7 linked regions of the Homo sapiens genome follow. The protein of the gene in region 7 interacts with the protein of the main gene of each other region in a pairwise test. Each region holds a gene or a part of one and is shown on either strand. Other genes may lie near its edges.

The links.
Region 1: the proteins of SETDB1 (region 7) and ARL6IP4 interact in binary tests that used the Homo sapiens proteins (3 or more experiments, as listed by UniProt).
Region 2: the proteins of SETDB1 (region 7) and STRN3 interact in binary tests that used the Homo sapiens proteins (3 or more experiments, as listed by UniProt).
Region 3: the proteins of SETDB1 (region 7) and IFT43 interact in binary tests that used the Homo sapiens proteins (3 or more experiments, as listed by UniProt).
Region 4: the proteins of SETDB1 (region 7) and HSF2 interact in binary tests that used the Homo sapiens proteins (3 or more experiments, as listed by UniProt).
Region 5: the proteins of SETDB1 (region 7) and CEP76 interact in binary tests that used the Homo sapiens proteins (3 or more experiments, as listed by UniProt).
Region 6: the proteins of SETDB1 (region 7) and HSF2BP interact in binary tests that used the Homo sapiens proteins (3 or more experiments, as listed by UniProt).

Annotation. Positions count from the first base shown.
Region 1 is NC_000012.12:122,979,340-122,983,409, reverse strand, and holds ARL6IP4 (ADP-ribosylation factor-like protein 6-interacting protein 4), read right to left. Parts: upstream 2,730-4,070; 5' UTR 2,665-2,729; exon of another isoform or gene 2,423-2,664; intron 2,282-2,422; 5' UTR 2,271-2,281; coding exon 2,111-2,270; intron 1,840-2,110; coding exon 1,531-1,839; intron 1,454-1,530; coding exon 1,336-1,453; intron 942-1,335; coding exon 872-941; intron 791-871; coding exon 734-790; 3' UTR 501-733; downstream 1-500. Other genes in the region: OGFOD2 (2-oxoglutarate and iron-dependent oxygenase domain-containing protein 2), read right to left, coding at 4,064-4,070.
Region 2 is NC_000014.9:31,019,880-31,023,379, reverse strand, and holds part of STRN3 (striatin-3), read left to right. Parts: intron 1-3,500. UniProt on the Homo sapiens protein: Calmodulin-binding scaffolding protein which is the center of the striatin-interacting phosphatase and kinase (STRIPAK) complexes.
Region 3 is NC_000014.9:76,020,263-76,023,762, reverse strand, and holds part of IFT43 (intraflagellar transport protein 43 homolog), read right to left. Parts: intron 1,437-3,500; coding exon 1,369-1,436; intron 1-1,368. UniProt on the Homo sapiens protein: As a component of IFT complex A (IFT-A), a complex required for retrograde ciliary transport and entry into cilia of G protein-coupled receptors (GPCRs), it is involved in ciliogenesis.
Region 4 is NC_000006.12:122,402,652-122,406,151, reverse strand, and holds part of HSF2 (heat shock factor protein 2), read right to left. Parts: intron 1-3,500. UniProt on the Homo sapiens protein: DNA-binding protein that specifically binds heat shock promoter elements (HSE) and activates transcription. In higher eukaryotes, HSF is unable to bind to the HSE unless the cells are heat shocked.
Region 5 is NC_000018.10:12,682,224-12,685,723, forward strand, and holds part of CEP76 (centrosomal protein of 76 kDa), read right to left. Parts: intron 1-3,500. UniProt on the Homo sapiens protein: Centrosomal protein involved in regulation of centriole duplication. Required to limit centriole duplication to once per cell cycle by preventing centriole reduplication.
Region 6 is NC_000021.9:43,533,989-43,537,488, forward strand, and holds part of HSF2BP (heat shock factor 2-binding protein), read right to left. Parts: intron 1-3,500. UniProt on the Homo sapiens protein: Meiotic recombination factor component of recombination bridges involved in meiotic double-strand break repair.
Region 7 is NC_000001.11:150,950,363-150,953,862, reverse strand, and holds part of SETDB1 (histone-lysine N-methyltransferase SETDB1), read right to left. Parts: intron 3,406-3,500; coding exon 2,773-3,405; coding exon of another isoform or gene 2,769-2,772; intron 2,499-2,768; coding exon 2,382-2,498; intron 1-2,381. UniProt on the Homo sapiens protein: Histone methyltransferase that specifically trimethylates 'Lys-9' of histone H3. H3 'Lys-9' trimethylation represents a specific tag for epigenetic transcriptional repression by recruiting HP1 (CBX1, CBX3 and/or CBX5) proteins to methylated histones.

The sequences.
Region 1 (4,070 bases), on a different chromosome or scaffold from region 7:
GTGACACTCACAGTGACGCCAACACGTGAGTGCGGGGCTGACTCTAGGCCTAGCCTGCTTCTAGCTCCTTCCTGGGATGGAACTCAGTTTGCCCTCACAGACCTCAGTGAAACGGGTGCTGTGAGCCTCCCTGCCTCAGAGTGGAAGACACAGCTGGGCAGTGAGAGCCAGACCTGCCACACAGGCCACCCAGCCCCAGCACCTGGCTCTGCACTGCTGCGATCTGTGGAATGAACATGGCAGGGGAAGCCGACTCTCTCCATGCCTGAGTGCATGGCATTTCAGAGCCAGCTCTCTGGGTTTGGGGTTCAGCTGGCATGAGGTCTGGTCCAGGCAGGCTGACCTGAAGAGGAAGGCACAGGCGCTGGTGTGGCCTGTGCTCACGACCACCAGAGGACACCCCAGCTTTGCCCAAAAGCTCCCGGAGCCCTTGTTTTTCCCTGGCAGTCATGTAGCACCCTTCCCTCCCACTCAGCACAAAAAGCCACAGAACAGAGAAAGTCTATCCAGGGGGCCTTTAATAGCTGAGAAGTGCTGCTCTTTCAGATGGGGGTGCCAAGCAGGCCGGTGACCCCAACCTCCACCCCCTGCCCCTGAGAAGAGACTGGGCTGGGCCAGAGACCAATCCACGGGGGAAAGGCCACCAGCACCCATCAGGCTTCCCACTGGCACCCTGAAACCTGCCCAGGCTGGGCCGCCAGCGTCGTCCACAGGCCTTGGCCAGCGGGGGCCCTCAGGGAAGCAACCCAGCTCGCATCTGGAAGGCCAGGCAGTCCCCTCGGGTGGCTTGCTGGGGAAGAAAGCACACAGGAGGAGGGGTACATCACAAACAGAGCTGGGGGCGGATGGCAGGCAGAGGGGCCACACCCACCTTGTTGATCTCTCTGTGTCGTTCTTTGGTTACGATTTCCTCTAGGACCTCGCCATCTCCCTTAATAAGCCTGGGGGTGGGAGGGTCTCCGTTCAGCAAGGAATAGGCAGGTCCCCTAATGCCAGAGGAGCAGAACCACAAGCAGCCGGCAGAGGGGTCCCAGGGCTCCCACCCCGCAGCCTTGAGTGGACAGACCCTGGGGCCTCACCCACTCTCCCTGATGAAGGCAGTGGAGCTGGGCTCTGCCTTGCCAGCCTCAGCCCGGCCAACAACAGCCCTTTCAAGAGCCTCCTCCAGGCCCTTCCAGCCCCTGCAACTACTTACTCCAAGTGACCGTATTTTTGCCCACATTTGGCCTTTTTCAGGCACCAGGAACCCCGCCCGGCCCCACTCCTCCCGAGAGCACACATCTTCAGCCAACACTCCCAGATCCTGTGGTGTAAGTCAGGCCGAAAGCTCCCCACCTGGTGCGCCCCGTCTCAGGGTCCACCACCTTGCGGATGATGCTCTGCCGGGCATCCCACTCCTCCTTGGTCATGGGCTTCATGGCCTGGATTCGGGACTTCTGCTCATCCGTCAGGACTGGAAGGGAAGACGGAGGTGGTGGCCAGGCCTTGGGAAGCGACCTTCTCCCTCTCAGGTGCTGGGCAGCACAGTACCTGGGCCATCCTCTTCCTCCCCAGCTGATCGGTGCCACTGGTCCAGCGAGGGGCCCGGCAGAGCCTCCACCTGCTGTGCTTCCGCCTTCTCCTTGCCCTTCTTCTTCAGCTTCTTCCTCTTCTTCTTCTTCTTCCTCCTCTTGTCCTTGTACTTCCCCCGCTTCTTCCGGCCATCACTGGAGGAAGAGGAGGAGGACGAGGAGGAAGAAGAGGAGCTAGAAGAACTGGAAGAAGAGGAGGAGGAGCTGGATCTTGTTCTCCTCCGGGCCTTCTGCTTGCTTCTCTCTGTGATGCAGGGAGAAGGTGAGGCTGGAAGGCCAGGAGGGGAAGAGGTAAACCTTCGTCCCCTGCTCTGGCCTGGGGCAGGCACAGACCGGCTACAGGGTGAGCGCTTCCTGAGGGGCTTTCCAGAACAGAGATGGAGCTTCCCAGAGGAGCCCCTTCCTGGCTCCTGCGGCGCCTGGCCCTCACATCTCAGGCCCGGCTGCACAGAGGCATGACTGAGCGTCCCCGACCACTGCTCGCCCGACTTCCCCGGGTAGTAACTGCGCCTCCTCTCCCCGATGCCTGTGGTCCTCACCCTCCGCCCCAGGGGCCGTGCTGGCCTTGCGACCTTGGGATGTGGAGGCCGAGCAGTTCCTCGAGGTGTCTTTCCTGCTCTTCTTCTTTCTCTTTTCCGACCCCCGTCCCCGGGACCGGCTGCGACTCCTCGAGCGCTTGCGGGAGCCGACGTGAGCCATGGCGCCGCGGGCTGGCGACGAAGAAGACGCGCTTGAGCCGAAGCCCCCAAGGCCGGCCGCGGGCGGGCTCCAAGGGTGGCTCTAGCGGGGCCGGGGCCTGGCGACGCCCAGTACCCGTCACCGTCCCGGGAAAATGAGCGACCCTCACCCACCCCCAGCGCTGGGGACCCCGGTTTTCTCCGCCGACTCCAGTCCCCGCAGCGGTGCCTGTTAAGGGCCCGCCCCGTGCCCGGAGGCCCCACGCCTGCGCACCCGGCTCCAAACCCCTGGGAACTGGCCGCCGTCCGCCGCGAGTGGCGTCTGGGGCGCTTTCCCGCGCTCTCCTACCCTCCAGCCCCGCGCCCTTCGCGGCCTCGCCGCCTCAAGGGGGCCCCCGGGGCTGCTCCGTTCCCACCTCGACCGCCCTGCGGGCCGGACAGCCCGCCCCGCGCCTTCTCGAGAGGAAGCGGCGGCGAGGAGGCTTCCGGCCGGGGCGCTGCGCGGGAGGCTGGCCGGCTGGGAAGCGCGGCGCCGCTGCCTTTCGTTCTGACGCCCCAGGTTCCGTCCCGGGCGCGCCCACCTCCCGCAGAGGCAAGCAGGGGCGCCGGCCCTCGAGCTCCGCAGCCCCTCACGCCTGTGTCTGCCGAAGCTGCGCCCACTTCCAAGGCTGCCCTCTCGGCGCACGCCCGCAGCACCCACGCCCCCGGTGCCCTGGGAAGAAGGCGACCCTCGCGCGCGCCGCCCTCCTCCCCGGCTGGTCCTGCCCTCTCCATACGACTGCGAGCTCCAGACTGAGGCGCCCTGGTCTTTCCGACGCGCCCACCCAGTGACTCAGAGGTCGCAAACTCGTGTCCGTAGGGGCCAGAAAGATCTTGGCAGTGAGCGCGGGCATGGACCCCAGGCCCATCCGGAAGGAAGCCAGGATTCTGCTCCAGCTGATACGTGCAACGTGGCATGGGGCTGGTGCCCCACCTTCCCAGGGAGACCAAACTCAAGACTGCAATATGGAAGCCCCCTGAGTTTCAAATGTGTAACCCAAAGCGTGGCTGTGCGCTTCATCCAATCTCGGGCCCCCAAGTTGCAACTCTTCCACAATGACAGCCGCAAACACAAAGGGATCTTGCAAAGCACTTTATATACGTCAGCGCATTTGACTCCCAAAACAGCTCTAGGAGGTAGGTGCTAAATGAGGAAACGAAGGCACCAAAAGGTGAAGGCTCACCTAAAGCCACACAGCTGGAAGTGGCAGAAGCAGAATGGGAACCCGGGCAGCCTGGTTCCTGGCCCTGCCATTCACCCCTCTGCCATCTAGAAGATGCTACTGGTGGCCCACCCGAGTCCACTGGGGGGTGATGCCTGCTGCTGAGGGTTCACATCTGTGCTCTCTGGAGGCTTCCCTTGGCTACTGGAAGGCACCCTGCCCTGGAGATAAGTGTCTGGGAAGTTATTCACTCCTCTCTGGCCCCCTCATCCAGGAGCCAGTAACCGGTGGTGTGGGCACACTGTGGTACTGTGGGCTCTGCCTGGAGCTCTCCGTGGGGCCAGCTGAGGCTGGACGTCCTCTGAAGCCACTTCCTTGCCCAGCTGCTCCCTCCCCTCCCCTGCTTCCCTGACTCCCTCGCTGAAGCCCCATTCCAGACCCTGCTTCTGACAAACCTGAACTAAGGCAGCATCTTTGCCCATAGAATGACCCAGAAGCTGGCACACCGTTGAGCCAAGAAGTGCAGTAGGCTGCGGGGATTTTATTTCTGCCCCCAGACCAAGGCAACGGAGCCCTCACCTGCCTGCCACCCCCACACTGGGCCCAAGCAAGCTCAGGTG
Region 2 (3,500 bases), on a different chromosome or scaffold from region 7:
GAACCAAACTAAAGGATCACATCTTAAAGCTCTTCTGTCTCTGATTCTTCCTTACCTTAGACTCAGGTAAAGCATTGTTAGTAAGGTCATAGGACAGTGGTTTCTTAACTTTTATATAACATGAATTACCAAAATTCCACAGACAGTCCATTTTCTTCAAGCCCTAGATCAATCCAGATCTCCAGAGGATAAGAGGCCTGCATATTTTTTAGAGTTCTACAAGTGATTCTTTCTTCACAGTAGTGCCTGTTAAAGAGAAAAATTACTACACTACACTTTTCTTTTTTGTAATTTCATAGTAGATTCATTAAAATCTTGTCATGGAAAAGACACTAGGATTTGCAAATTACTATTCCAGACCAGCTTTTGAAAACCCTGAAAATGGAAAATTCAGGAGATTCCCCCCTTAAAAATGAAGAAATCAAGTAAGTCTAAGCAAAATATCTCCTACTAACTTAAGGATCTTTAAGCAGCAACATCTATCATGTTACGACTTCTAAAAGTTAGAAACTGCCATTTAATCAGCACTATAACCTCATGAGGTGAGTATTCCTGTTTTACAGGTGAGGAGACAAATTTAGGTAGGTTAAATCATTTTGCCAAGGTCACCTAGCCATAAAGTATTGCAGCTGAGATTTGAACCCAAGTCTGTCTGATTCCAAAGCCTGTAGTCATGTTACCACTCTTGTAACCATTATGTTATACTGTCTTAGCTCTTTTTTATAGAGTGGAATCTGACTTGTAATTCTTCATCTAGTATTGCGTGGCCCACACCACTTGAGTACATTTCAATAAAGTTTTATTGAGCGCCTGTGATGCTGCTGCAAGGCATAGTTTATATATATTGCTAATGTGTCCTTATATTTTTCTTTATAGTTTGTATGTAGTAAGTGGATTTTGGGTATATACAAAATGCTTGTTTGCCAAGTGTAAAAATATGACATAGCTAATACAAGAAAATGTAGTCAAAGAGTTTATGTTCTTTTTTTTTTTTTTTGAGATGGAGTCTCGCTCTACTGTCGCCCAGGCTGGAGTGCAGTGGCACCATCTTGGCTCACTGCAAGCTCTGCCTCCCAGGTTCACGGCATTCTCCTGCCTCAGCCTCCCCAGTAGCTGGGACTACAGGTGCCTGCCACCACGCCCAGCTAATTTTTTTGTATTTTTAGTAGAAATGGGGTTTCACCGTGTTAGCCAGGATGGTCTTGATCTCCTGACCTCGTGATCTGCACACCTTGGCCTCCCAAAGTGCTGGGATTACAGGCGTGAACCACCGCGCCCGGCCGACAGTGATTTTTCATAAAGGTGTTCCCTTTGTTCTGGGATTTTTAGCCTTCATACATTTTTACTGTTAGGCATTTCCTTTTTCAGATGATGGTGATAATAGTTAAAAAAATTTTATTGATAGTATTAAGGGAGTCCACTACCTTGTGTCAGATTCCCTGTTTCTTTTTGAAGCCCTTGAAATGAAGTTTAGGGACCACTGATCTAGAATTCTCTTTATGCTCCTCCACTACCCATTAACCCCACTCTGTAGTCTGCCTTTTCGCTTTCTTCTCTCCTCCCTTCTAAACACTTCGTAGAACACTATGTTTTCTGTTCATGATTGACCTTCAAATTGCCAAATCCTTTGGCCTTATAAACCGTATGTACTTAACCAACACTCTGTTGTTAACAAATCCTTCAAAACTGTTTTCTTTTGCTTCCGCTCTGTTTTTCCTGTCATCCACTTATCACTTTTCTTCATATGTTTTCTTTCTTTTGTTCCCAGTTGTTATTATGTGGGGTTCTGGTTCTATTTTATGTTCTCACTGTATATTCAGAATCAGATTTTTAGCTACCATGTACCATCTTAATAATACCTAGCATTTATTTACTCTTTCCTAATTGTTATTTCAGTGCTTCAGTATTTCAGTATTCATTTAATTCATTCAGTATTCATTTAATTCTCAAAACAACTCAGTGAGGTTGATACAGGTATAATTGGTGTCTTTTTTTTATTTTTTCTGACACTGGCATATCGAGGCCCAAAGGTTAAGTAATCTATGCAACTAGGAGGCAGTAGAACTGGGATTTAAACTTAGACTGCCTGTAGAGGCCATGTTCTTAACCACTACTAGATTTTTGGCGTCCAGATGTCCCTTGTATTTCTAACTTCCGTTTAGTTTTTCTACCTCAAATTCAATACATCCATTCAGTTAATCTCAAGTGCCTGCCTCTTTCCCTTGACAAAACACACTTGCTCATTCTTTATTCCTTGCCACATTAAAGTTAACACTATCCTCCCCATCGCTAGTACTATAGAGGTCATTGAACCTTCCCCCTGCGTATGGCCTGTGAGTTTTATTGATTCCAGCATGATTATTTGGTGATATTTGAGTGCGATTTTGTGCTAGATCCTGGGTGTATAATGATGTATGAGACACAGACTTTGTCCTCAGGGAGCTTATACTCTAGAAATAATTTTTTTTTTTTTCAAGAGAGCGTCCTACTCTGTTGCCGAGGCTGGAGTGCAGTGGTGCCAACATGGCTTACTGTAGCCTCAGGCTCCCGAGCTCAACTGATCCTCCTGCTGCAGCCTCCCGAGTAGGTGGGACTACAGACATGGACTATCACACCAAGCTGTTTTTATTTTTAGTTCAGGTGGGTTCTCAGTTTGTTGCCCAGGCTGGTCTTGAACTCCTGGGCTCAAATGATTCTCCCACCTCATCCTCCCAAAGTCCAAGTATTGGGATTACAGGCATGAGCCATCATGCCTGGCCAATAAAATGTTACAACAAATTAGCAGAATGCTGAGAGAATAAATGGTGATAGGAAACCTGTATATGTAATGGAGTTTCAGATAATACCTAATATTTATTGAGCACTTTCTTTTTTTTTTTTTAGAGACAGTTTTCGCTCTGTCACTCAGGCTGGAGTACAGTGGTGCTATCTCAACTCACTGCAACCTCCACTTCCTGGGTTCAGGCAGTTCTCATGCCTCAGTCTTCTGAGTAGCTGGAATTACAAGCACCCACCAACACGCCCAGCTAATTTTTGTATTTTTTGTAGAGATGGAGTTTCACCATGTTGGCCAGGCTGGTCTTGAACTCCTGACCTCAAGTAATCCGCCTGCCTTGGCCTCCCAAAGTGCTAGGATTACAGGCATGAGCCACTGCGCCTGACCTATTGAACACTTTCTATATGGTTGACATTATTTTTGGTTCTTCAGTACATTTAATTCTCATAAAGTTCCTAAATGTATACTTCTAGATCTGAAGTATCGGGAATACCTAATTGTACAAAGAACATGCCAGTTGGAAGCTACAGCATTTAGCAGAAGTTCTAAAGTAGGAAAGAGCTTCATTTAAACTGTGAACTGGCCAGGTGTGGTGTCTCACGCTTGTAATCCCAGCGCTTTGGGAGGTTGAAATGGGAGGATCACTTGAGCCCAGGAGTTGGAGACCAGCCTGGGCAACAGTGAGACCCTGTATCTAAAAAAGAAAAAAAAAAAAAAGAAAATG
Region 3 (3,500 bases), on a different chromosome or scaffold from region 7:
TTACTTCTCCCAAACCGACCCTTCATATGAAGCATTTATGGCACCATAAAGATCCCAAAGCTCCTGCAACTCACAAACATCACCACCTGCCAGAATGCCTGTGAGAAGAATATGGTCAAAGCCTATCTATGAGGACAGAATGGGGATAAGAAACAGTCATCATCATCATGATAATAGCCAACATCTACAAGTGCTTCCTAAATGCATCTCTCTTCTAAATATTTTACACATACGAATTCATTTAATCCTCACAATGATCCTTTCAAGTAAGAACTATTTTTAACCCCATTGTAGAGATACAGAAATGGAGACCAGAGATATTAAATTACTTGCTTGGGGTCTCTGAGATAATAAATGGCACAGTTAGGATTCAAAGCCAGGCAGCTGGCTCCAGTACCTGCGGCTGTCACCACACTCTGCCGCCCCTCAATATGGAACCACAGGGATCAGCATCTAGTCTAAGCTGTGGAAAGGCTGGGAGGGCTAAACACAACAGCAACATTCCTGTTACATATGTAATTTCCTTCAGTCTTTGAATCACCCTGTAGGGATCATCAATGTGTCCATCCAGGTGCTCAGCCATGGTAAACATCTTACCCAACATCATCCAGCTCAGAGAGAATGGCATCTGCCATCTACAGCCCCACACTGAACACTATGCAGTTTATAAAGTGCTGCTACATGCACTGTGACATCAGGTTTCCCAGCCTTCCCAGGAGCTCTGGAGAGGCTGATGAGATAATGTCAGATGGTTATGGTATAAATATTCATGCCAGCTTACAGTAAACACAAGATACCAACTAGGCAGGGTGATGGGACATCTGTATTGTTCCCCTTTATGAATGATGACTGATATATGTCAGGGGAGGACATGCCGCACAGTTCATCAGCAGTTACCAACAGGCAATTCCATTATGTTTTGGAAATTAAGAAGAACACAGAATGCTACAACATGGATAAACTTTGAAAACATTATGACAAGTGAGAGAAGCCAGCCATAAAGGACCACATAATGTAGATTGTATTTACATGAAATGTCCAGAATATGCAAATCAGAGAGAGAGAAAGTTGACTGGTAACCACCTAGATCTAGAGAGGTTGGGGGGACATGGGAAGTGGCTGCTAATAGATACAGGGTTTCTTTTGGTGGGGAGGTGATGAAAATGTTGTAAAATTGATTGTGTTAATGGTTGCACAACTCTGTGAATATATTAAGAATGATTAAATTGTGCATTTTAAGTGGGTGAATTGTATGGTATATAAATTTTTTCTCAATAAAGCTATTGTAAAAAATAAAACAACACAGGAGCAAAGTCCCCCCAACCGTGTGCACCCCCACCCATACTCTTATGAGCTGCTGGTACTCACTTCGAAGCCTTCACGGAATCACCTGCCCAGCCTCCCTGTCGGCAGCGAGGTAATTTAGCAGAGGAAGTCTACAAGGAAAGAGAAGTCAAAAGAACACATTCACTCAACATTTGCATTTATTTTATTTTTTATTTTCTATTTTTTGAGATGAAATCTCACTCTGTCACCCAGGCTGGAGTGCAGTGGTGCGACCTCAGCTCACTGGAACCTCCGCCTCCTGGGTTCAAGCGATTCTCCTGCCTTAGCCTCCTGAGTAGCTGGGATTATAGGCGCCCACCACCACGCACAGCTAATTTTTGTATTTTTAGTAGAGACAGGGTTTCACCATGTTGGCCAGGCTGGTCTCAAACTCCTGACCTCAAGTGATCCGCCCACCTGGGCCTCCCAAAGTGCTGGGATTACAGGCGTGAGCCACCGCGCCCAACCAACATTTGTGTTTAAACACCACAATGGCTGAGGGTAAGGTCACCTACACCAATCAATATTCAGCCTACCTTTTGAATAAAAATACAGTAACCTTTGTAATTTACTATGAAAATCTGGGTTCCTTCATACCCTCCCGGTGAGTCATAAATTGGCACCATGTTTCTGGAGGGCTATTTGGTAAAGTTTATTGAAAGCCTTAAAAATGCTCATACTTTTTAACCTAGCAATTCTAATCCTAGAAATTGATCCCAAGGGAAAAATCAGAGAGGAATATAATGTTATTTTTGAGTAGTGAATAGCTAGAAACAACCAAAATTGCTAGCAATAAGGAATTAAGTAAATGGTAAAATACACATGAAAATACTATGCAAATAACAAAAAGCCATGTTATAAGAAAACCCAATGATATAAGAAAGTTTGATACATTTTAAGTTTCAAAAACATGTTACCAAACAGTAAGTATATGCTTTTGATGCATTTTTTGAAATGATTATCAACATATACTATTTAGTGTTAATGAGTTATATGTACATGACTGACAGGGGACTCCATTATAGGCAATTTTAATTTTCCTTTCCTCTTCTGCTTTTTATAAACCGAAAAGTAATAAAATAAAGATATAAGAGTGAGACTTGCTTAGAAGAGATAAACTAAATTGGTGGGTGGATTAAAAATCTACTCAAGAGGCCTACACCAACCCCTGCCACTGCTGCCAGTGACCGAGTACAGTGTCTAAGAGGCTTGGGGATTGACTTGCCTCCAACCCCCACCACCACTAGCACCCATGTATGCCATCTAGGGGCCTGAGGATAGGCTGACCCCACCCACCACCACCACTGCCAGCACACACATGACCCAGGGGCATAGGATGGATCCACCCTGCCCACCACCACTGGTGCACATTTTCTGGGGTCTAAAGGACCGTTCTGCCCTGTCTGCCACCCATGCATAGTCTGCGAGCCTGGGAATAGGCCTACCCTGCCTGCCACCAGTGTCCATGTATGTCTCCCAAAAGCCTGATGGCCAGTCTACCCAGCTTGCAGCCACCACCCACCCACATGCACTACCTGGGGACTGGCTCACCTGGCCCACCACTGCCACCCCCGGCACCTGAGCAAGGCACTGGAGGCCTAAGGACTGACCTGCCCAGATCCACCATCACCAGAACCCATGTACACCACCTGGGGGGCCCAGGGACTAGCATACCTGGCTTGCCACCACTACCACTGGTGCCTAAGGACCAGCCCACTTGGTATCCCCATTTGCAATAAAGCCTTGTCACAGCCTCCAATAACAACTATAGCCTAAGCCACTAAAGAACCCATAGATACCCACTGATGCTGATTACAGCTGAAGATATATAAAAACTACATCACTGCACCCACCCAGAATCAAAGCCAAAGCACCCCACCCTACCAACACCATAGATACATCTATAGGGAAGTCTTTTCTTATGGAAGTCAATCCATAAGACTGGAAGATGCAACTATTACACCAGATACACAGATATCAATGTAAGAACACAGGAAACATGAAAAAGCAAGGAAACATGACACCTTTAAAGGAACACAATAATTCTCCAGTAACAGATCCCAATGAAAAGACAATCCATGAAATGGATAAAAAAGAATTCAAAACAATGATATTAAAGAAACTCAGTGAGGTATGAGAGAACACAGATAAAGAGTACAAAGAAGGCCGGGTGC
Region 4 (3,500 bases), on a different chromosome or scaffold from region 7:
TTCCTTAAATAAATATCTTTCTTTTTCTAGGTGCCATGATGTTAAGTTCTGTCAGCAGGGGATAAAAGAGAGATATTACAAGAAAAAGGAGCTCTTGTTCCTGACTCATGTATCCTTGGCAAGCTTCTGCAGTGGAGGCAGCTTCTCCAGTGCCTAGCTCTTGATATTAATGGTGGTCAGCAACACTCAAAGACCATCAGCTTTCACTGGTGCTTCCTCTCCCTTGGGAGGTTTCAAAGCAGAGTATCTCTAACAAGATATCTCCCCATAAACAGTTTTTTAGAGTACTCCAGAACAGGGATTTATAAACTTTTTCTTAAAGGGACAAATAGTAAATTAGGCTTGCAGATTATAACATCATAACTCTACCTTTGTAGTGAGAAAGCAGATACAGACAATATGTAAATAGATTGGGCATAGCTGTGTTCTATTTAAACTTTTTTTTATAAAACAGCTGGCAAAAGGACTACAGTTTGCCAACCCGTGACCTAGAGGGCATATTTCCCACCAAGTTTTGAAGGATGCATTTCCAGTAAGTTCCACCAGAGCAACACCAGTGACTGCTCTGCTACTGAGTCATGGCCATATTCCTTCCAATAAGGTAAGAATCTTAGCCTTGGCAAAAAAGGTTCTTACTTGGGCACTCTATCTCAGCCCTATCAGTAGTGGCTGCTTCTTAAAACTATTCTTGTATTCTTTTAATTTTCTTTAATTTCCCTGATATAGTCAGTAACTCTATTAAACTTACCCTCTTGAAAATACCTGTGGCTTCTGACTTATGATTGCATCTTAACCGACACACAGTTTATCTTGGTGTTTTTTAAAGGCATTTATCACTAACTGAAATTATATTGATTGTGTTTTGCTTGCTTTTACTTTTTTTTTTTTTTTTTTTAAGAGACAGGGGTCTCAGTATGTTGCCCAAGCTAGCCTCAAACTCCTGGGCTCAAGCAATCCTCCCAACTCAGCCTCCCCAGTACCCAGAACTACGACATGCACCACCATACCCAGCTTGTATTTGCTTACTATTTATTGATATCCACCACTCAATGTAAGCTCCATAAAGGTAGGCACTTTGGTTCACTACTGAATGAATTCCTGATACCTAGCACAATATTAGGTCATAACAGATTCATAACAAATACCTGTGACTGACTAAATTAATCTTTGGCCAAATAAACTGAATTTTTAGAATTTCAACTATTTGATTATATAAAATAGGGAGATGACAATAATCTCTTGCTATACCTGTGCTCACTCTCTCTCACATACACTCCTTATTCATTCATATCACTCTATCTCTGCTTATTGTATTCCCTCAGTCTCTATTCTAAAATTAGTAAATAACTTCTTTGAGTGCAAAAATTCACCTTCCTGTCTTTTAAACCTGTGAGGTTCAAGCAATACAACACAGAATCTCCCTAAGTATTTTACAAGGATGAGAAAACTACTACTGAGTGAGGTGGGAAAGATAGGCACCTTCTCCTTAAACCTTACCCACAAATGTTGGCAAGAGTCCAAAGAGTAGAAACAGTCGTTACTCTCCAAATTAATTTTGGCACTCTTGTTAGAACACTCAAAATATTCCTAATAATCTAATACTTCAGCCACATTACTTTAAAACATTTTTCGGAACAGAAATTTGTGGCTTGCTAATCTATAATTTTTAATATGCACCAGCTACTCTTTTAGAGTCTTTAGCTCATTCTTTCTCTTATATATACAAATAAAAATACTTGAAAATCAATCTTTCAACTTTTCTGCAGGTCCATCTAAGTTGGATTTTACCCCCATCCTCCCACACTTGTAGTCTTTCTTATTTTCACTTTGAAATACTAATATAATGCAATGGTTGCTGGGATGTTCAAAACAATACTAGCACTTTGTGAAGTCCAAGGGCCTACTGCTCAAATTCATCCAAAACAGCTAGAAAACAATGGAAAAATTCTGTTTTTGCTCTCTCTCCCTCCTACCTATTTCCTAATTCATCTCTGCTGACATGAGGGGGATAGAGAAGCAGAGAATGCCAAAGGGCACAAAAAGGGGGGAAAGCTGGGTATGAAGTCTTTGGTGGAAATCACTTCATTTTCTCAAACAATCTGAAGAACAGAGACAAAGGTAACAACACTGACAAAAGGATGACCTTCCAGTTCTTTCCTTCTTTTATACTGCTTCACTTCAGCATACGTTGGTTGTAACATTTCATTAACTCGTAAAGGCTGTTTTTTACTATATAACTTCATTTAACCTCTACGGCCTTGTCTCTGAATATCAAGTTTCACCAGTTGCTTCCAAGCTAATATGTGCCCTCTCTTTAGGACACTTAAGATTTAAAACAGTTTTAGGTCGTCTGACAGTACAATCTCTGTACTTGATTCTGACAACAGACTACCAAAGCCAAGAACAGTTATATAAAATTTTACATTTAAAGGAAATGTTAAAAAAAATGAAAACTTTTCATTTTTGTTTTTCAGAAGAGTAAGGAGAAAATGGAAATATGTAAAACATACTTTCTTTTCTTTCTGTTTTTTGTTGTTGTTGTTTTGAGACAGGATTTCGTTCTGTTGTTCAGGCTGGCTTGCAGTAGTGTGATCTCAGCTCATTGCAACCTCTGCCTCATGGGCTCAAGCCATCTCCCCTCTTCAGCCTCCTGAGTAGCTGGGACTAAAGATGCACGCCACCATACCTGGCTACTTTCTGTATTTTTTTGTAGAGACAGGGTTTCACCATGTTGCCCAGGCTGGTCTCAAACTCCTGGGCTCAAGCAACCTGCCCATCTTGGCCTCCCAAAGTGCTGGGATTACAGGCATGAGCCACCACGCCTAGCCACATTATGCTTTCTTAAAGACTGTCTGGAATTAAGGCATTTCTATTATTTTAGAGTCAATAACATATTTAAGTATAATTTCAATTGTTCAGATTATTATATTCTTGTATTTAATGGTGAGAGGTATTATTTCCCTTTTCAATTTTGTCATATTGCAAATTTCGAGGAAAATTAAAGTTATGTACGTCTCCAGAGATATTATCTAGAGATATTACCAACTGCGTTTTCCAAAACGCAATTGGTAAGAGTTTTTTTTCCCTTGCCTTACACTCAAGGTAGAGAAATAAATTATTTTCCACCATTGAAAAAAAAAACTGCACAAAAGCTTGTCTGGTTCCCAAAACAACTGCTTCTTCTAAAAGTTCTCAATGATTTTCATAGTATAAATGCTAAATTACCTCAACAGAAATACAACACAAGTTTGAAGGAAACCAGAAACCACCATAAATAGCAACTTTCAAAAGATGAGAGTACCTGGGCGCCGGTGGCTCACACCTGTAATCTCAACACTTTGGGAGGCCGAGACGGGTGGATCACTTGAGGTCAGGAGTTTGAGACTGCCTGGCCAACATGGTGAAACACTGTCTCTACTAAAAATACAAAAATTAGCCAGGCATGGTGGTGCGCATCTGTAATCACAACTACTCGAGACGCTGAGGCAGAAGAATCGTTT
Region 5 (3,500 bases), on a different chromosome or scaffold from region 7:
GCATGATCTCAGCTCAATGCTGCCTTGACGTCCTCAGCTCACTGCAGCCTTGATGTCCCCAGCTCAAGTGATTCCCCCGCCTCAGCCTCCTGAATAGCTGGGACCACAGGCACTCATCACCAGGCCCAGCTATTTTTTGTGTTTTTGTAGAGACAAGGTTTCACCAAGTTGCCCTGGCTGGTCTCGAATTCCTGGACTCAAGCAATCCGCTTGCCTCAGCCTCCCAAAGTGCTGGGACTACAGGCATGAGCCACCTTACCTGGCCAAGAAATTTCTTTCTCCAAAAAATTGGATTTGGTGGTGCTAAAGTTTTTTAAAAAAAATTAACTGTAAGAAAACAAATAGCATTTTATAGTTCTTCAAGTGGCTTTACAAAAATGTAATAACCAATCTTTTATTTTTTAATTTACTTTTTTCTTTTTTGAGACAGAGTCTCGCTCTGTCACCCAGGCTGGAATGCAGTGGCATGACCTCGGCTCACTACAACCTCCTCCTCCCGGGTTCCAATGATTCTCAGCCTCCTGAGTAGCTAGGACTACAGGCGTGCACCACCACACCCAGCTAATTTTTGTATTTTTAGTAGAGAGAGAGTTTCATCATGTTGGCCAGGTTGGTCTTGAACTCCTGACCTCAAGTGATCCACCCACCTCGGCCTCCCAAAGTGCTGCGATTACAGGCATGAGCCACTGCGCCTGGCTTAATCAACCTTTTAGACCCAATTATTTCTGAGATTTTGTCCTAAAGAAAATTCAGAAGTAAAATAAAAATATCTGCAAAGATAGTCAGTGTGAAAGTTCATTCATGGCAACATTAAAAAATTTAAAATGAGCTTAACTTTATGGCCAGGTGTGCCAGCTTTTGCCTGTAATCTCAGCACTTTGGGAGGCTGAAGCGGGCAGATCACTTGAGGCCAGGAGTTTGAGACCACCCTGGCCAAGAAACCCCATCTCTACTAAAAATACCAAAAAAAAAAAAAAAAAAGCCAGGCATGGTGGCTCCATGCCTGTAGTCCCAGCTACTCAGGAGGCTGAGGTAGGAGAATTGCTTGAGGCTGGGAGGCGGAGGTTGCAGTGAGTCGAGATCGTGACACTGCACTCCAGCCTGGGCGACAGAGCGAGACCCCGTCCTAAACAAAAACAAAAGAAAACAACAACAACAAAACCACTGAATAAAAAAAAAAGAGCCTAACTTGGCAGTTCCTACAATAGGGAAATAGTTAAATGTATTTTGTATATTGACTCAAGGAAACTTAAAACACTCATTAAAAAACGGAAATCAGCACTTTAGGAGGCAGAGGCGGGCAGATCACCTAACGTCAGGAGTTCGAGACCAGCCTAGCCAACACAGTGAAACCCCATCTCTACTAAAAATACAAAAATGAGCTGGGGGTGGTGGCGGGCACCTGTAATCCCAGCTACTAGGGAGGCTGAGGCAGGAGAATCGCTTGAACCCAGGAGACGGAGGTTGCAGTGGGCCGAGATCATGCCATTGCACTCCAGCCTGGGCGACAAGAGGAAAACTCTGTCTCATTTAAAAAAAAAAGGAAATCAGAAAGACTGTAGCAACACATAGAAAAATGTTCATAGCATAATGCTTAATTATAAAGCAAGATACAAAAATTTATTTACAATTATAATTATGAAATAAATGATACATATACAGCAGAAAAAATATAAAAAGAAATAATAAACTAGGAATAGAATTATAGGTAAAGTTTCACCATTACTGTTGTAATGCTGTTGTTTGTACAGTAAAAAATCTAAATATATATATGATATATATCATATATATGATATCATATATATATGTATTTTTTTTTGAGACAGAGTCTTGCTCTGTCGTCCAGTTTGGAGTGCAGTGGCGCGATCTCAGCTCACTGCAACCTCCACCTCATGGGTTCAAGTGATTCTCCTTTTTTTGTGTTTTTAGTAGAGATGGGGTTTCACCGTATCAGCAAGGATGATCTCGATCTCCTGACCGTGTGATCCGCCCGCCTCAGCCTCCCAAAGTGCTGGGATTGCAGGCGTGAGCCACCACACCTGGCCCATGCCTGGGTAATTTTTATAGTTTTTTAGAGAGAGGGATTTTGCCATGTTGCCCAGGTTTGTCTGGAACTTCTGGGCTCAAGTGATTTGCCCACCTTGGCCTACCCAAGTGCTGGAATTGCGGGCATGAGCCACCATGCCTGGCCTGCTGTCACCTTTATTTATTTTTTTTGAGACAGAGTCTCGCTCTGTCACCCAGGCTAAAGATAGTTTTTTGTTTTTTTTTTTTGAGATGGAGTTTTGCTCTTATTGCCCACACTGGAGTGCGATGGCGTGATCTCGGCTCACTGCAACCTCCACCTCCCAGGTTCAAGTGATTCTCCTGCCTCAGCCTCCCAAGTAGCTGGGATTACAGGAGCCCGCCACCATGGCTGGCTAATTTTTGTATTTTTTCAGTAGAGATGGAGTTTCTCCATGTTAGCCAGGCTGTTCTAGAACTCCCGACCACAGGTGATCCACCCTCCCCGGCCTCCCAAAGTGCTGGGATTACAGGCGTGAGCCACCGCGCCTGGCCTAAAGATAGTTTTACTTGTTTGTTATCATACTATCAACATTTTTAGAACACAGATTAGGAAATATCCCATAATCTATAAAATTAGTTTACTAAAATCAAGTCATTCAAAAAGTGTAATTAAATATACATTTGTATTTAAATACAAACTAAACAAACTAAATAGCATGCAATTCAAGATTTTTTTCTATTTTAATATTTTTTCTATATTAATTTTGTACTGCCATTTTCTCTTTTTTTTTTATGGAGTTTCGCTCGTTGCCCAGGCTGGAGTGCAATGGCGCGATCTCAGCTCACCACAACCTCCGCCTCCCAGGTTCAAGCAATTCTCCTGCCTCAGCCTCCTCAGTAGCTAAGATTACAGGCACGTGCCACCACACCACGCTAATTTTGTACTTTTAGTGGAGACGGAGTTTCTCCACGTTGGTCAGACTGGTCTTGAACTCCTGACCTCAGGTGATCCACCCACCTCTGCCTCCCAAAGTGCTGGGATTACAGGCATGAGCCACCACGCCCAGCCTTATTTTCTCTTTTTTAAAGATGTATTATCTGAGCAAATTGCAACACATCAGTAGTACCAGAAAGCCATGGTCTGGTCCTGGTGCTGTTCCTAATTCATTCTGCAACTTGATTTCTGACATTTTAGTACTTGTAGGTCCCTACATCACAGAAATCACAATAAATAAGAAACTACATGAGAAAATAAAGATGCTGAGTTTTTTGTGTATTGATATTTAAATGTTATGAAAAACAGAACAAGGTTCTGACGTGGTCAAGCTGATAGCACCCCAAAGCGGTTAGTTCCAGGACCCTTGCAAAACAAAATCCGTGGATACTCAAGGCTTATATAAAATAGTATTTTTTTTTTTTTTGAGACGTGTCTTGCTCTGTCCTCAGGCTAGAGTGCAATGGTGCGATCTCAGCTCACTGCAACCTCCGCCTCC
Region 6 (3,500 bases), on a different chromosome or scaffold from region 7:
ATACTAGAGATCCTAGCCTGTGCAGTAAGGCAAGAAAAAGAAATAAAAGGTTTATTGATTAGAAAGGCAGAAATGAAACTGTCTCTATTTGCAGATGATATGATTGTCTATACAGAAAATCCCAAAGAAACTAGAAAAAAAGTTATTAGAACTAATTGAGTTTAGCAAAGTCACAGAATACAAATTCAACATACAAAGGTCAATTGTATCCACATACTTATAACAAAAAATTAAAAATCTAATGTTTTTTAAAAATTACCATATATTATATAATAGCACCAAAACATGAAACACTTAAGTATAAATCTCATGAAACTATGTGCAAGATTTCTATGCTGAAAACAACAAAACACAGATATAAGGATCCACAGACATATAGATGGAGAGAATATGCCATATTTATGGACTAGAAGACTCAATATTGTTAAAATGTCAAATCTCCTCAAATTCATCTATATAATCAATGCAATGCCAACCAAAATCCAAGTTGAAATTTTAGCAGAAATCAACAAGTAATTCTCAAATTTATTTGGAAAAACAAAGGAACTAGACCAGACAAAACAATTTAGAGAAAGAGAAATGTTGGGGAATTGCAGTACTAGATTTCAACATTTATGGCCATAAAGAGTGTGGTACTGGTCAAGTGACAGAGCGACAGACAAAGAGATAAGTGAAATAAAATTAGAGGATCCAAAAACAGACCACAGCTTTGTGAACTCTCAACAAAGGTATACATTCAATTCAATCAAGAAAGAATAACCTTTACAACAAATGGTGCTGGAAAAATTGAACATCCATATGCAAAAACAAAGAACTTCAATCTATACCTTGCCTAACATACAAAAATTATACAAAAATTAATAACATACCTAAATGTAAAACCCCAAATTTTAAAACTTCTGGAAGAAAACAGGAGAAAAATCTTTGTGACCTTGAATTAGGTAACAATTTCCTAGACACAAAACCAAAAGCATAATCCATACAACTAAATAATTTATTAGCCACACCAAAATTTTAAAAATCTGCTCTTCAAAAGACAGTCACAATGAAAAGACAAGCCACTAGATGAGGACAAAACATTTGCAAAACACGTATCTGATAAAGGACCTAAATCCAGAATACACATACATCTCTGAAAACTCAGTAACACAACAGCCCAATAAAAATAGGGAAAGTGTTTGAAAAGACACTTCACCAAAGGAGATACACAAATGGCAAGCACACAAAAAGATGCTCAGCATCATGGCTATTAGAAAAATGGAAATTAAATCCATACCTATTAGAATGGCTAAAATTAAAAAATAAAAATCTGAAAATACCAAGTGTTGACAAGAATGAGGAACAACTGGAATGTTCATAGATTAGTGGTGAAAATTTAAAATGGTACTGCCAGGCCAGGCGCAGTGGCTTACGCCTGTAATCCCAACACTTTGGGAGGCTGAGGCAGGCAGATCACCTGAGGTCAGGAACTTGAGACCAGCCTGGCCTCCATGGTGAAACCCCATCTCTACTAAAAATACAAAAATTAGCTGGGTGTGGTGGTGCACGCCTGTAATCCTAGCTACTTGGGAGGCTGAGGCAGGAGAATCACTTGAACCCACGAGGTGGAGGTTGCAGTGAGCCGAGATCGTGCCACTGCACTCCAGCCTGGGCAATAGAGCGAGACTCTGTCTCAAAAATAAATAAAATAAATAAAATAAAATAAAATAAAATAAAATAATAAAATAAAATAAAATAAAATAAAATAAAATAAAATAAAATAAAATAATAAAATAAAATAAAATAAAATAAAATAAAATAAATAAAATGGTACAACCACCTGAGACAACAATTTGGCAATTTCCTATACATTTAAACACATACTTACCACATAACTCAGCATATGAGTTATATGCTGAGATAGTTTTATGTCACAACTCATACAATTGTCTACTAACAAGTGAATTTTGTTCTATGTAAATTATAACTCAACAAATCTGGCTTTATATTAAAAATAAGAAGAAGGCCAGGCTTGGTGGCTCACGCCTGTAATCCCAGCACTTTGTGAGGCCAAGGTAGGTGGATCACCTAAGGTCAGGAGTTCGAGACCAGCCTGAAAAACATGGTGAAACCCTGTCTCTACTAAAAATACAAAAATTAGCCAGGTGTCATGGCAGGCACCTGTAATCCCAGCTACCTGGGAGGCTGAGGCAGGAGAATCACTTGAACCCCAGAGGCAGAGGTTGCAGTGAGCTGAAATCACGCCATTGCACTCCAACCTGGGCGACAGAGTTAAGACTGCATCTCAAAACTAAAAAAAAATAAAAATAATAATAAGAAATTAGATCCCTGGACCCTCTCCCCTATTCCCTGCCTCTGGAAAAATGCCCTTCCCTAGTAGAGACTGGACATTTCTTTTCTTTTCTTTTTTTTTGTGAGACAGAGTCTCACTCTGTCACCCAGGCTGGAGTGTAGTGACGTAATCTCAGCTCACCGCAACCTCCGCCTCCCAGTTCAAGTGATTGTCCTGCCTCAGCATCCTGAGTAGCTGGGATCACAGGCACCTGCCACCACACCCAGCTAATTTTTATATTTTTAGTAGAGACGGGGTTTCATCATGTTGGCCAGTCTGGTTTCGAACTCCTGACCTCAGGTGATCCGCCCACCTCAGCCTCCCAAAGTGCTGGGATTAGAGGTGTGAACCACCCCACCTGGCCTGGACATTTATTTTCTAAAGAATCTCTGGAGGTGAAACATCAGGCACAATTGAGGATGGAGGTTCTGTCTGGAAAACATGTGGATTAGATAAACACATACCTACAAGCTCTAAGACATTCCCTCTATCTCTACTTTGTTTCCGGAGTTTATAGGCCTTCATCCCTCCAGAAATAAGGGTGGGTGAGTCTTCTCCAGACAATCTGAACAACCCAAGACAACACAGTCGAAGATACTGACCTATGGGTTCCCAATTAATTGATGCACCAGCTCACACTGCAGAAAAGTTCAGAAGCTCCACCCATATGCTCACAGCTTCCAATCGGCATTATAAATCCCACTGTTAAACATGACCAGACAACCACACATCACCAGACACCTGAGAAAAAGATAAATGGCTATCATTTTAAACAGGAACAAAAGGAGGACAAAGAAAAGAGATTGTGCAGTGAGAAGAAAAGTTTTAAAAAACTATTATTAATATCTTCCTCAAGGAGGTAAAAGAAGCTATATCATCTGTTAAACAAGAATGGGATGCTATTTTTTAAGACAATTAAAAATAAACAGCAGTCTTAGAAATTAAATGCCTGAGAGTAGAGATGAAAACTTCAATAGGAAGTATGAAAAAAGAAGTTGAGAGTACAGATGTCCCCTCTTATCTGTTGCTAAAACTTTCTGTGGTAGTGCCGGCATGTGTCAAATACAATCAAACTTGTTCCTGTCAGGTGCTTTCTGACAGTGGCAAAGCTCTCAGGGCACACACTGAGCATTCCCTCCTCCTATGGGCTTCCTGGCCACCTCCAAAG
Region 7 (3,500 bases):
AAATTTTTTTTTTAATTTTTAAATCATTTTTTTTGAGACGGAGTCTTGTTGTGTTGTCCAGACTGGAGTGCAGTGGTGCAATCTCAGCTTACTGTAATCTCTGCCTCCCAGCTTCAAGCGATTCTCTTGCCTCAGCCTCCCAAATAGCTGAGATTACAGGCGTGCACAATCACGCCTGGCTAATTTTTGTATTTTTATTACAGATGGGGTTTCACCATGTTGGCCAGGCTGTTCTTGAACTCCTGACCTCAGGTGATCCACCCACCTTGGCCTCCCAAAGTGTTGGGATTACAGGCATGAGCCACCGCGCATGGCCAACAATTTTTTTTTTTTTTTGAGATAGAATTTTGCTTTTCTTGCCCAGGCTGGAGTGCAATGGTGCGGTCTTGGCTCACTGCAACCTCCACCTCCTGGGTCCAAGTGATTCTCCTGTCTCAGCCTCCCAAGTAGCTGGGATTACAGGTGCTCGCCACCATCCCTGGCAAGTTTTTTGTATTTTTAGTAGAGATGGGGTTTCACCATATTGGCCAGGCTGGTCTTGAACTCCTGACCTCAAGTGATCTGCCTGCCTCAGCCTCGAAAAGTGCTGGGATTACAGGCGTGAGCCACCACGCCCAGCCCCAACAATTTTTTTTTAGACACAGGGTCTTACTATGTTGCCCAGTCTGGTCTCAAACTCCAGGCCTCAAGTAATCTTTCGGCCTCACCCTCCTCAGTAGCTGTCCTCAACCTCATGCTGGTTCCACCTCCTCTGCTCAACCTTTAAATGTTGGGGCACCCAGGGCTTACTCCTGAGCCGCCTTCTCTATTATCAACATTGTCTCTAGGTGAACTTATTCAGGCTTTAAATACTCCTGTGCTGATGATTCCTAAATTTTTATATCCCACTCTCTCCAGAAATCCCAGTGTCTTCTTGACATTTCTACTTGGATTGCCTGACAGGCATTTCAAACTTTTTGTTTTGTTTTGTTTTCTGAGACTGAGTTTCGCTCTTGTTGCCCAGGCTGGAGTGCAATGGTGCGATCTTAGCTCACCACAACCTCCGCCTCCCAGATTCAAGCAATTCTCCTGCCTCAGCCTCCCGAGTAGCTGAGATTACAGGCATGCGCCACCATGCCCGGCTAATTTTTTTTTTTTGTATTTTTAGTAGAGACGGGATTTCTCCATGTTGGTCAAGGCTGGTCTTGAACTCCCGACCTCAGGTGATCCGCCCGCCTCAGCCTCCCAAAGTGCTGGGATTACAGGCGTGAGCCACTGCGCCCGGCGGCATTTCAAACTTAACATGGCCAAAACAAAAACTGAATTTCACTCAAACCTACTACTCCTTCGGTCTTCCATCTCAGTAAAAAGCACCAACAACCACTAAGATGCTCAAGCCAAAAATTTAGGAATTGTCCTTGATTCTACTCTTTCCCCCCACTCCATAATCTATCCAATTCTGTAGCTCTACCTATTAATACAGCCCAAATCTATCCTTCTTACCTCTACTATCACCTCCATTCTATTGCAAGTCATAGCTGCAACAATGTCTCTCTCTGCTGTACTCCTATAACGATCTCCTAATTGGTCTTCCAAAATCTACTTTTGCCATCCTAAGACCTATGATCTACAAAGAAGCCAGAGTAATCTGAAAAAGGCAGGTCACATCACTTGGCAGCTTAAAATCCTGTAAGAGCACCATGAATTTGATTCTAACTTTTCTTTTTTTTTTTTTAAGGCAGAGTCTCGCTCTTGTCACCCAGGCTGAAGTGCAGTGGCATGATCTTGGCTCACTGCAACCTCTGCCTCCTGGATTCAAGCGATTCTCCTGCCTCAGCCTCCCAAGTAGTTGGGACTGCAGGCACCCGCCACCACCCCCGGCTAATTTTTGTATTTTTAGTAGAGACAGGGTTTCACCAGGTTGGCCAGGCTGGTCTCAAACTCCTGACCTCAGGTGATCCACCCACCTTGGCCTCCGAAAGTGCTGGGATTACAGGTGTGAGCCACTGTGCCAGCCTGATTCTAACTTTTTTCATTCTGATTTACAAAGCCCTATGTAATCAGGTCCCTGCCTACTTCTCCTCTCTGAACACATTTCACTTACAAGTGTAAATCACAATCTGTTAAGACATTCATTTAGCTATGAAATTAAGATAATCTTTTTTTGCAACAGAAAATTGCTAGATACTATTCAATCATTCTATGTCTTCATTTCAAGGAAGGTCCAAGAAAAAAAATGTGTTTTGGAAGTCATGAAATAAGATCTAATTAATAAAATGCCTCATCTGGTATTCTATTTTTGGTTCCAATTTTTAGATTTCTGATGATTTCTATAAGCACAGAAAAACAAGAACATGCTCCTCAGTCTCTCTGAGGTACTGTGCCATTCCTTGACCACTTACCCTGTGGGTAGACACTCTTCTAGTCTCTTGTACTGGTAGCCAGAGTTAGGGTTGATTTGGCCTCCTGGGGTACAGGCTGTAGCCTGGATAGTTAGTTGATGGCAGGCACACTTGGACCTATATGACAGAGGGAAATAAAGGAAAGGAGCGGGGGGATCAGAGAACAAAAATAACACAATACACATGTACCCAAGGTTGCTCAGTGTGGCCATGTCAGACTCCAGCCTCCCTACCTCATAGCTTTCATGGAGGCCTTATAGCAGGAGTTCCAGGTGAGGGAGGAGGTAAAGGAAGATGGGGAAAGCAGTACAGATACAAGGCAAAGGAAGAGGTGAAACAGACACCATAACAAAGTTGGAAGCAGGGGCAGCAATTCCCCCCACCAACTCACTTGTCCCGACACCCATCCTTGCAGTCACAGCCAACCAGAAATTCAGGGCCTGTGTTAATGAAAACACCCTTGCCCGGGATACGTTCCTTGCTGTAGGCCACCTGGGGTGGAGGGGTTGTGTCAATCTCATTGACACAGGATAGGGGAACATCTTCCTTCCCATAAGTGATGTCCAAAATATAGTAAAAAGGCTTATAGGGCTGAAACTTTCGGTCCACAAGAACATATGGATCCAAACAGAACATCTCCAGGAAGAGGAAGTCACAGCCAGTCTCGAAAAGGTAGCGTTCTATCTCCTGCATTGTCCGAAGGCAGAGACCACAAGGTGTCTTATAGATAACATGAAAGCCCATCTTGCGGTTAACTCGACGCCGGGCTGTCATCCGCCGGAAGTCATATAGTAACGGGACCAGCAGAGGGTTCTTGCCCCGGTACTGCTCATTCCTCATAGGTCTGACTCGAGACAGACAGGTATAGCTGCAGACATGAGGTAAGTAGAAAAGCTTCTCCATGGGAGCACGGTAGGAGGGCTCTGCTGGGGCCCGCTCCAGCATGCCATGGAAGACTGGGGGTGCTGGAGGGGCCGGGAGTGCTGAGGGTGCTGGGGCAGAGGCTGTGGAGCCTAAAGGTGATCTGCAAATGAGATGCAAGTGATCAGATCGGAAGGCAACAGGACCTCTGTTTTATAATTAACCCTCCAGGTAGCTAAGCCATTTCTCTCATCTTTC